2 separate regions of the Homo sapiens genome follow, and region 1 is reported to be linked to region 2. Evidence: microRNA targets listed by miRTarBase, many of them from high-throughput screens and not tested one by one. Region 2 holds a microRNA gene; the other region holds the end of a gene's coding sequence.
Evidence for each region. Region 2 holds the annotated microRNA hsa-miR-4430 (AGGCUGGAGUGAGCGGAG, at 2,039-2,056, opposite strand). A microRNA usually pairs through its seed, bases 2 to 8, with sites in the 3' UTR of a target mRNA and lowers its output. Matches are read on the target gene's strand: a 7mer-m8 pairs with bases 2 to 8, a 7mer-A1 pairs with bases 2 to 7 and ends in A, and an 8mer does both.

Region 1 (4,062 bases), not on the chromosome of region 2:
AAATTGACCTTAGTAAATTGCAAAGGATCTTTAAAGTCTCTATAGAGTCATAGTCAATAATTTGGAAGAAACCTTGGACGTCCATTGTCTATTTCCAAATCAGTGTTTGAATCTCTCTGGATATGGGACAAAAAGAAATAGGTGACTAGAGTTAATTCAACCAGTTAAAAAACTTAATCTTGGATTACATGAGATGGCTGCTGCTGTTTCCTATTAAAGTTTTAAAATTGACTTTTAAAAGAGCAGTTTAAATACTGTTATCCAAAACTGGACACTATGTGCTTATTTGTGATATTTCATAATTTATGTTCAACCCTCTAATTTTATTCGGCTCAGAAACTCAAGTCAAGGAATCTTTTGAAGAAAAACAACAGTTGTTCTCCAGCTGGACCATCTAATTTAAAATCAAACATTAGTAGTCAGCAAGTACTACTTGAACACAGCTATGCCTTTAGGAATCCTATGGAGGCAAAAAAGAGGATCATTAAACTGGAAAAAGAAATAGCAAGCTTAAGAAGAAAAATGAAAACTTGCCTACAAAAGGAACGCAGAGCAACTCGAAGATGGATCAAAGCCACGTGTTTGGTAAAGAATTTAGAAGCAAATAGTGTATTACCTAAAGGTACATCAGAACACATGTTACCAACTGCCTTAAGCAGTCTTCCTTTGGAAGATTTTAAGATCCTTGAACAAGATCAACAAGATAAAACACTGCTAAGTCTAAATCTAAAACAGACCAAGAGTACCTTCATTTAAATTTAGCTTGCACAGAGCTTGATGCCTATCCTTCATTCTTTTCAGAAGTAAAGATAATTATGGCACTTATGCCAAAATTCATTATTTAATAAAGTTTTACTTGAAGTAACATTACTGAATTTGTGAAGACTTGATTACAAAAGAATAAAAAACTTCATATGGAAATTTTATTTGAAAATGAGTGGAAGTGCCTTACATTAGAATTACGGACTTAAAAATTTTGCTAATAAATTGTGTGTTTGAAAGGTGTTTTTTGTTTTTGTCTTTTTAAACTACTGTTAAAAGAACAGCTTATGATAAGTAATATGTTTAACTTAGAGAAGAATTTTTTCCTGTACCAAAGTTGGCATATTGCATTCTAAATAAGATGCTAAATAAGAGTTAACCAACATTCAACATGACCTTAAAACTGCTGGGTTTTGTATTAATTAAATTATAATTGGCACTGTGATTTGAAAAATTTATAGAAAAAAAGGTACAGGGCAAGTTTTTAAATTAAAACTTTCTATATTTTGTTTTACCAGTAAAAGTGAGCTTATCATGGCCTCTCTCATAAGAATGATTTTAAAATAGGTTGTAAAATATTTTGAAAATATTTGAATGTGAAGTACCATTGAGTCATCCAAACTAGGTAAGGCCTCAAGTACTTTAAACTAGTAAAATCTAGTAGCTGATAATATTCACCTAAGTAAGTGTTGTAAAATAATTCAGAGTTCAGGACCTAGCTTAGATAAATGTATACTACTCTTTTTCTCATAATAAAAATCTTACATTTCCAACTTCAAAATTGGTGCTTCCATATTTGTTGATAACCAAAACTCCTAAGGTTTTTTGTTTTCTTTTTAACTACTTTCCAAATGCATACTATACCTCAGAAATAGTGTATCAATATAGTGGGCTTTTTTTTTCCTCTTCATAAACCCACAGTAAAATTTAATCACAGGAAACTACTTATATCTTCACACTTTGTATTGATAACTTAAAATGGCATCAGTTTATCTTAGACATCAGCTTGCTTTTTATCTCCTTTTTTAGTGAGTGAAATAGAGCAACTAGCATGCCTGTGTTCCCAGCTACTTGGGAGGCTAAGGTGGGAAGATCAATTGAACCTAGGAGGTTGAGGCTATAGTGAGCTGTGATTGCACGACTGCACTCCAGCCTGGGCAATGGAGTGAGACTCCTGTCTCTAAAACAGCAACAACAAAAATAAAGCAACCATAGTGCATAAGGGAAATTAAATGTTCCCTATAGAAATATGTGTATGTCTGTGATAGTGGTATGCAAATGCTAATTATTTTATAAAATAAAAGTTCAGAACTATTCTTATCATTGCCACTTGAACAATTAAAGGGTTTGCTTTATTTCACTAATGTTTAATAGGAACCCTTTGCTTCAAACAGCTTTGTTGAAATCATGTAAAAATTTGTTAATAGAGAATCAAGTTATTTAACTCAACTTATTTAATTCAAGCTTGTGATACTAACATACAAAGGTAGCATAAACCAAGTCATAAATTGCTGTAATCTTTCCTGTAAAGTAATAGCTACTTCATGATTTTTTTAAAAATTTCATTTTTTTGCTATTTAGGATTGCATTTGCTTGGCTCCTAGTAACAATTCTTTTACAGTATTAGCACTCTCTTTACTAAGGAATGCCTCCCAAGGAAATGCAAAGGTAGGAAAAGTCTCTTAGAATGCCCATGAGGTATTTAAAACAGATATTTATGAAAATCTTTTTGTGAATGTTATAAATCTTGCTAGTTATTTTATCTTTATCTTAAGTATTAGATGTAGTTCCTTGGAATTGTCATTACATATTTATTTTTTTCTAGTATGGTTTCAAATAACTTTTTGCCAACATATAATCATCATCAAACATTCACTGACCATATCTATTTTATAACTCAAAATAAGTTGGACAAATAATCATTTTAATAAAAACTATTTTTTCCAAGTATAACCACTGTCATGTGGTTCACCCTTCACCCCAGATACAAAACACTTATTTGTGTAGCCCAGTTCCCATCTACAGTAATACCTTGAAACCTTAATAAATTTTAAAAATCATAAAAATAAAATATTGTAAAATACAACAAATTTTGGACAAGGTTACTTCATCTTCATTCATTATTACCTGACAGTATTAAACTACTACTCAATAATTTTAGAGTAAACTTTTCTGTGTTTTCTCCGTGATTTTCATTGTGCTGTCCTGACAACATGCTCCAAACTCTTTGCATCAAATTGTTTTATTAACATACATTTGTCTACCTTAAAACTAGCTTTATTCACAGAGAAAAACCTAAAAGGAGTCTATTAAAATGCTGCTTTCAGTTTGATAGTTTTTTTTTTAATCACTCTGACCATAAACTAACTGAAATTATAATGGATTTTTTTTCCTCTCCCGGTCACAACACAGATCTTCTGTTCATTTGTTCTCTGTCTACTGGGCACCAACCTCTACAAAGAACCAGCCAAAGGCTAGGTACTTGATATAAAAAGGAATATTACATTATTTTCTGCCCTCAAGTTGCTCTATCTCCTGAAAGAAACAAGTAATATTTATAATACAATATGATAAATGCTACAAAAGAAATAGCTGTAAAGTCCTTTGGTAAATGCTGTTGAATTGGAATTCAGTAAGAACTATAAACTGTAGACCTTTTTATAATCAAATGCTTTTGTCTTGAAACAAAACAGATTCCTCCTTATATTGACTTAGCAAAGGAGGTACAAGGACATTGGCATTTGACCTGAATTATGGTGTTTTATTGAATGAGCTATAAGACAACATTTTTACCCTTTAAAATGAACACTGAACAAATGTGTTAATGGTATCTTTGTTAAAAGGAAAACATAGCTATAAATAAAATACTACATCGAAATCCAGCACTGGAGTTCATTTGAAATTTGATATTTTGTGTAAAATAACAAACCTATTAACACAGATTTTTAAAATAACTCAGAATCGTATAAAGCACTTTGGTACTTATTTGTTCTCTTTTCCCTTACATTCTGTGTGGTAGGTGGTATTATCTCTGATTTACACATGAAGACATCCTTGTTAATGCAATTTATTTATTCATTCGGGCATTTACTGTGTGCCAACTTGCAAAAGGAATAGAAATGTCTGTGATCTAGATAGTTCTAGATTGAACATAGATTTTCTGCCAACAAATCCTCTCTGCTGTTCACATTATCCTTTGTTTAACGTATGAACCAGGTTACTAAAATAGGATAAATCATGTGTCTTAAAATATGAAAATAGTAAAGTCTTTGAGGTCACTTGATCTTCTCTAAGTAGACT
Region 2 (4,067 bases):
GGCTTCCATGTACAAATCAAGATACTCTGAAAAGGACCACTTGGAGAGTCTAAATAAGTAGACAGATACCTAAGGAGCCCCAGTTGTTCCTATCCCCAGCTTCTTGAGTCTTCCCGGCCCAGGTGCCAGAGCTTTCAAGATGACCCCAGCCTCATCCACCACGTGACTACAGCCTCATGAGAGACCTCAACCCAGCTCAGCCAACCTGCTTCCTAATTTCCGATGCCTTGAAACCATAAAAGACAACAACTGCTTGTTCTCGTTTCAAGCCTTTACAATTTAGGGTGATTTGCTATGCAACATTAAATAACAAGACCACAGCCTGAGTAAATGAAGCTGCTGAAGGGAGCCCAAGAGAAACTCGGAATTACCTCCAAATTTCTCTGAAGAAAGGATTCGAGGTAAGGAAAAGATCTGCAGCTGCTTGTAAGGCAGATCATCTGTCTTCACCATGCTGAAAGAGCAAGGTGGACTCCTGCTTGAAGAGCACTGTAACTTACTCATGCAGTAATGTGGAATCAGGAAAGGAAAGTGATAGTAACAATTTGCTTACAATTGCCAGGGCAAGGGCAGAGACTTGGAGAACACAGTGGGAAATGAATGGTAAATATGTCATTCTCTACTGGAGGCAGGAGTGGGAAGTAATTAGCTGGGGAGGAGTGGGAGCTGGCTAAGGTCAGAAACAGTGACCTTACAGCATTATTATCTTTCAAATTCAAATACACTTCTATACCTCGCTTTGGGTTGCTGGGACAGAAACTGCAAACGACATTTCTATTTTTCCAGCCAGATACCTTTCAGGCTCTTTAGGGGGTGGTAGAGGGAGCCTGCAAGGCTGGAGGAAGAAGAGAGAATTTGCTGCCTCCTGTCTACTTCTTATTCCTGTGATGTCACCTGAGCAAAGCTTCTTCAAATGGGCAGAGGCACGGCCTTCTCACAGCAGCAGCTGAATCTGCTTTTCAATTTTGTCCCATTTATAAAACACGCTCCTTTGTACCCACTCAGAGACATTAACCCCAGCCAGCCAGTACCAACTCCTCAGAAAATTTGAGTCTCCAAGACTCCTACTCTACGTTTCCAAGTTTAATAATTCCAATCTCTTCCCTCTTTTCCCTCAGTTGAAAGGGTGGTAGCTGATGACTGCAGTTGCCACTTACCTCTGTGATACTTTAGAGATCTTTTTTCCCTTCTCAGTTACCTAGCTAATGGCTTTTTACCTAGTTGCAATTCTTCATATTAAAATTTTCCTTTTCCTTTACCTGGTGTGGCTTCTGTCTGCTGAATGGATCCTGACTAATAAAAGGTATTTCTTCCAAAGAAAAATCTATGATGGTAACTGAGGTTGGGGGTAACTGAAGGTTCAAATAGCAGGGAGATCAAGTTCAAATACCAAATGCAAAGACCACAGACAGAATTTGAAAGAGTGACCACAAAGTTAGGAGGTTGAAGGTGGGCAGAGACATAAGCAAAATAAGAGTAGGACTGGAACAAGATAGAAGGCTTAGGGTGATTGCTATGGAGGTGGAAATTATCAACCCATCCACCTACCCGCTACCCTCCCCCAGTCAGTAGGATGGGTAAAGCTGATTTAAAAACCTCAGGCAAGGCCAGGCGCGGTGGCTCACGCCTGTAATCCCAGCACTTTGGGAGGCCAAGGTGGGCAGATCGTGAGGTCAGGAGGTTGAGACCATCCTGGCTAACATGGTAAAACTCTGTCTCTACTAAAAATACAAAAAATTAGCCAGGCATGGTGGCATGCGCCTGTAGTCCCAGCTACTCGGGAGGCTGAGGCAGGAGAATCACTTGAACCTGGGAGGTGGAGGTTGCAGTGAGCCGAGATCGTGCCACCGCACTCAAGCCTGGGCGACAAAGCGAGATTCTGCCTCAAAAAAAAAAAAAAAAAAAAATCTCAGGCAAAAGTGGACATTACTTGTCTAGATTTGGGGTTGATGAGGGTTTTTTATTGGAGGTGGGAGTCGTTTTGTTTTTTTGAGACAAGGTCTCCCTTTGTCACCAGGTTGGAGTGCAGTGGTACGATCTCCGCTCACTCCAGCCTCACCCTCCTGGGCTTAGGTGATCCTTCCACCTCAGCCTCCCGGGTAACTGGGATGACAGTCACATGCCACCATGCTTGGCTAATTTTTAAAATGTTTCGTACAGATGGGGTCTTGCTATGTTGCCGAGACTTGCCTTGAACTTGTGAGCTGAAGCGATCAAGTTCTAAGAGCAGCTTATAATATGATTTTTAACGCATGTTGTCTATGATCATAGAGGGAGATAGACATGGAAAGAAAGAGGGCCTTTTCTGCCTTGTGCCTTTTTCCATGTCTATTCTAAGGACCAGGATTGCCTTGAGACCAACACTGTGAGAGCCCTGACTCAGTATCCATAGATATTCTATCTGCACATTGCAGAGCACTAAGCCAGTCCGCCTTCTCAGCTTCAGACTAGTCAGTTTCATGGACTTTCAGCATCTCTGTGTAGATGTTTCCAGGCACCTCAAACCCACCATGCTCAAGGATGGATCTAATCTCTTTTTTCATTCAGATTTCCCCCCCGCCGCCACCATGGAAAGCAGGTAGGAAACACTGGATTTCTTCAATGTAGCCCCCCAAAACAGAAACCTGGTTGCCTTTTCTTTTTTCTTTTTTTTTGAGATGGAGTCTCACTCTGTCGCTCAGGCTGGAGTGCAGTGGTGTGATCTCGGCTCACTGCAACCTCTGCCTCCTAGGTTCAAGCGATTCTCCTGCCTCAGCCTCCTGAGTAGCTGGGATTGCAGGCGCCCACCACCACACCCGGCTAATTTTTGTATTTTTAGTAGAGACAGGGTTTCACCATGTTGGCCAGGCTGGTCTTGAACTCCTGACCTCAAGTGATCCGCCCGCCTCGGCCTCCCAAAGTGCTGGGATTACAGGCATGAGCCACCACGCCCGGCCCTGGTGACCTCTTAGCATCTTCCCTTTTTGCTTCTTCTGGCTTCAAACTATTTGAAATACTCTGTGTGACACATCAGTGAACAAAATGAAGTCTTGTTGCCTAGTTGGGAAAAATGGAAAATCAGCAAAAGGTAAATCTGGGAAAGACTTTTTATTTAAATTATTTCTCTTTGAAGGGACTCATGAAAAATTGAGAAAATAGGGAGCGGTACTGGTCATGAGGAATGTGGGGAGGGAATCCTGAAATCTCCAGCTCTGATTTGCAGAGAAGGTTTGAGAATAAAGAGCTCCAAGAGCTGTTTGACTCATGTTGGCCGATCCTGAAATCCAGAAGTCCCCTGGCAGGAAACCCTCTGGAGACGACAGACTAAACCATCCTGCCATTGTCAGCCTCACAAGGGGCTCAGCAACTCAGCAAAAGGAAGTTGTTTTTTTGTATTGCACTTTTTTTTTGTCTTAAAGAGATATCCTTCTTAATAGTTACATTAATATCTTGAATAAAGATGGAGAGTGTATGTCAACTTGGAAGAGACAGCAACCATACTGGAAGTCAGAATCAGAATCTCAAAACATCTTAACATAAGGCTAAAGAAAGGGACCAACAACAGAAGAGAAATTAATAGGAGCAAAGGTAAAATTTTGTACTGAGGTTCAAAAAGCCACTTGTAGAAGTGCAGAATGGGGAGATGTGGCTGAACAGGACCCCAAACTTTTCAAGCTTGTTCTTGATGTTCTCTCAGTCAGGGTATGCTAACTGCTATAATGACAGTGCCCAAGTCCCAGTGATTTCAAGATATCCTGTGGAGAAAAAAGTATGGAAGGGGCCAGGCACAGTGACTTATTCCTGAAATCTCGGGACTTTGGGAGGCCAAGATGGACAGATCGCTTGAGCCCAGGAGTTCAAGACTAGCCTGGGGAACATAGCGAGAACTTGCCTGTACTAAAAATAAAAATAAAAATAAATCAGCCGGTCATGGTGGCGTGTACCTGTAGGCCTAGCTGCTCGGGAGGCTGAGGTGGGAGGATCACCAGAACGCAGGAGGTCAAGGCTGCAGTGCGCTATTGTCGTGACACTGCACTCCAGCCTGGGTGTCAAAGTGAGATTCTGTCTCAAAAAAAGTGTGGAAGGGA

Region 1: miRTarBase lists THAP2 as a target of hsa-miR-4430. Seed matches in the 3' UTR shown: 7mer-m8 at 1,910-1,916 and 7mer-A1 at 3,226-3,232.

What each region holds. Positions count from the first base shown.
Region 1 is chr12:71,676,353-71,680,414 of GRCh38, forward strand. THAP2 (THAP domain containing 2) reads left to right here. Exons shown (of 3, transcript NM_031435.4): 3 at 337-4,062. The coding sequence ends at 756. The region is part of intron 1 of LOC124902965 (a long non-coding RNA gene); the gene reads right to left. Among named protein-coding and RNA genes, the nearest start is that of TMEM19, 7.7 kb to the right of the region's middle.
Region 2 is chr2:33,416,508-33,420,574 of GRCh38, reverse strand. It overlaps MIR4430 (microRNA 4430), which reads right to left and starts at 2,059; the gene lies at 2,011-2,059.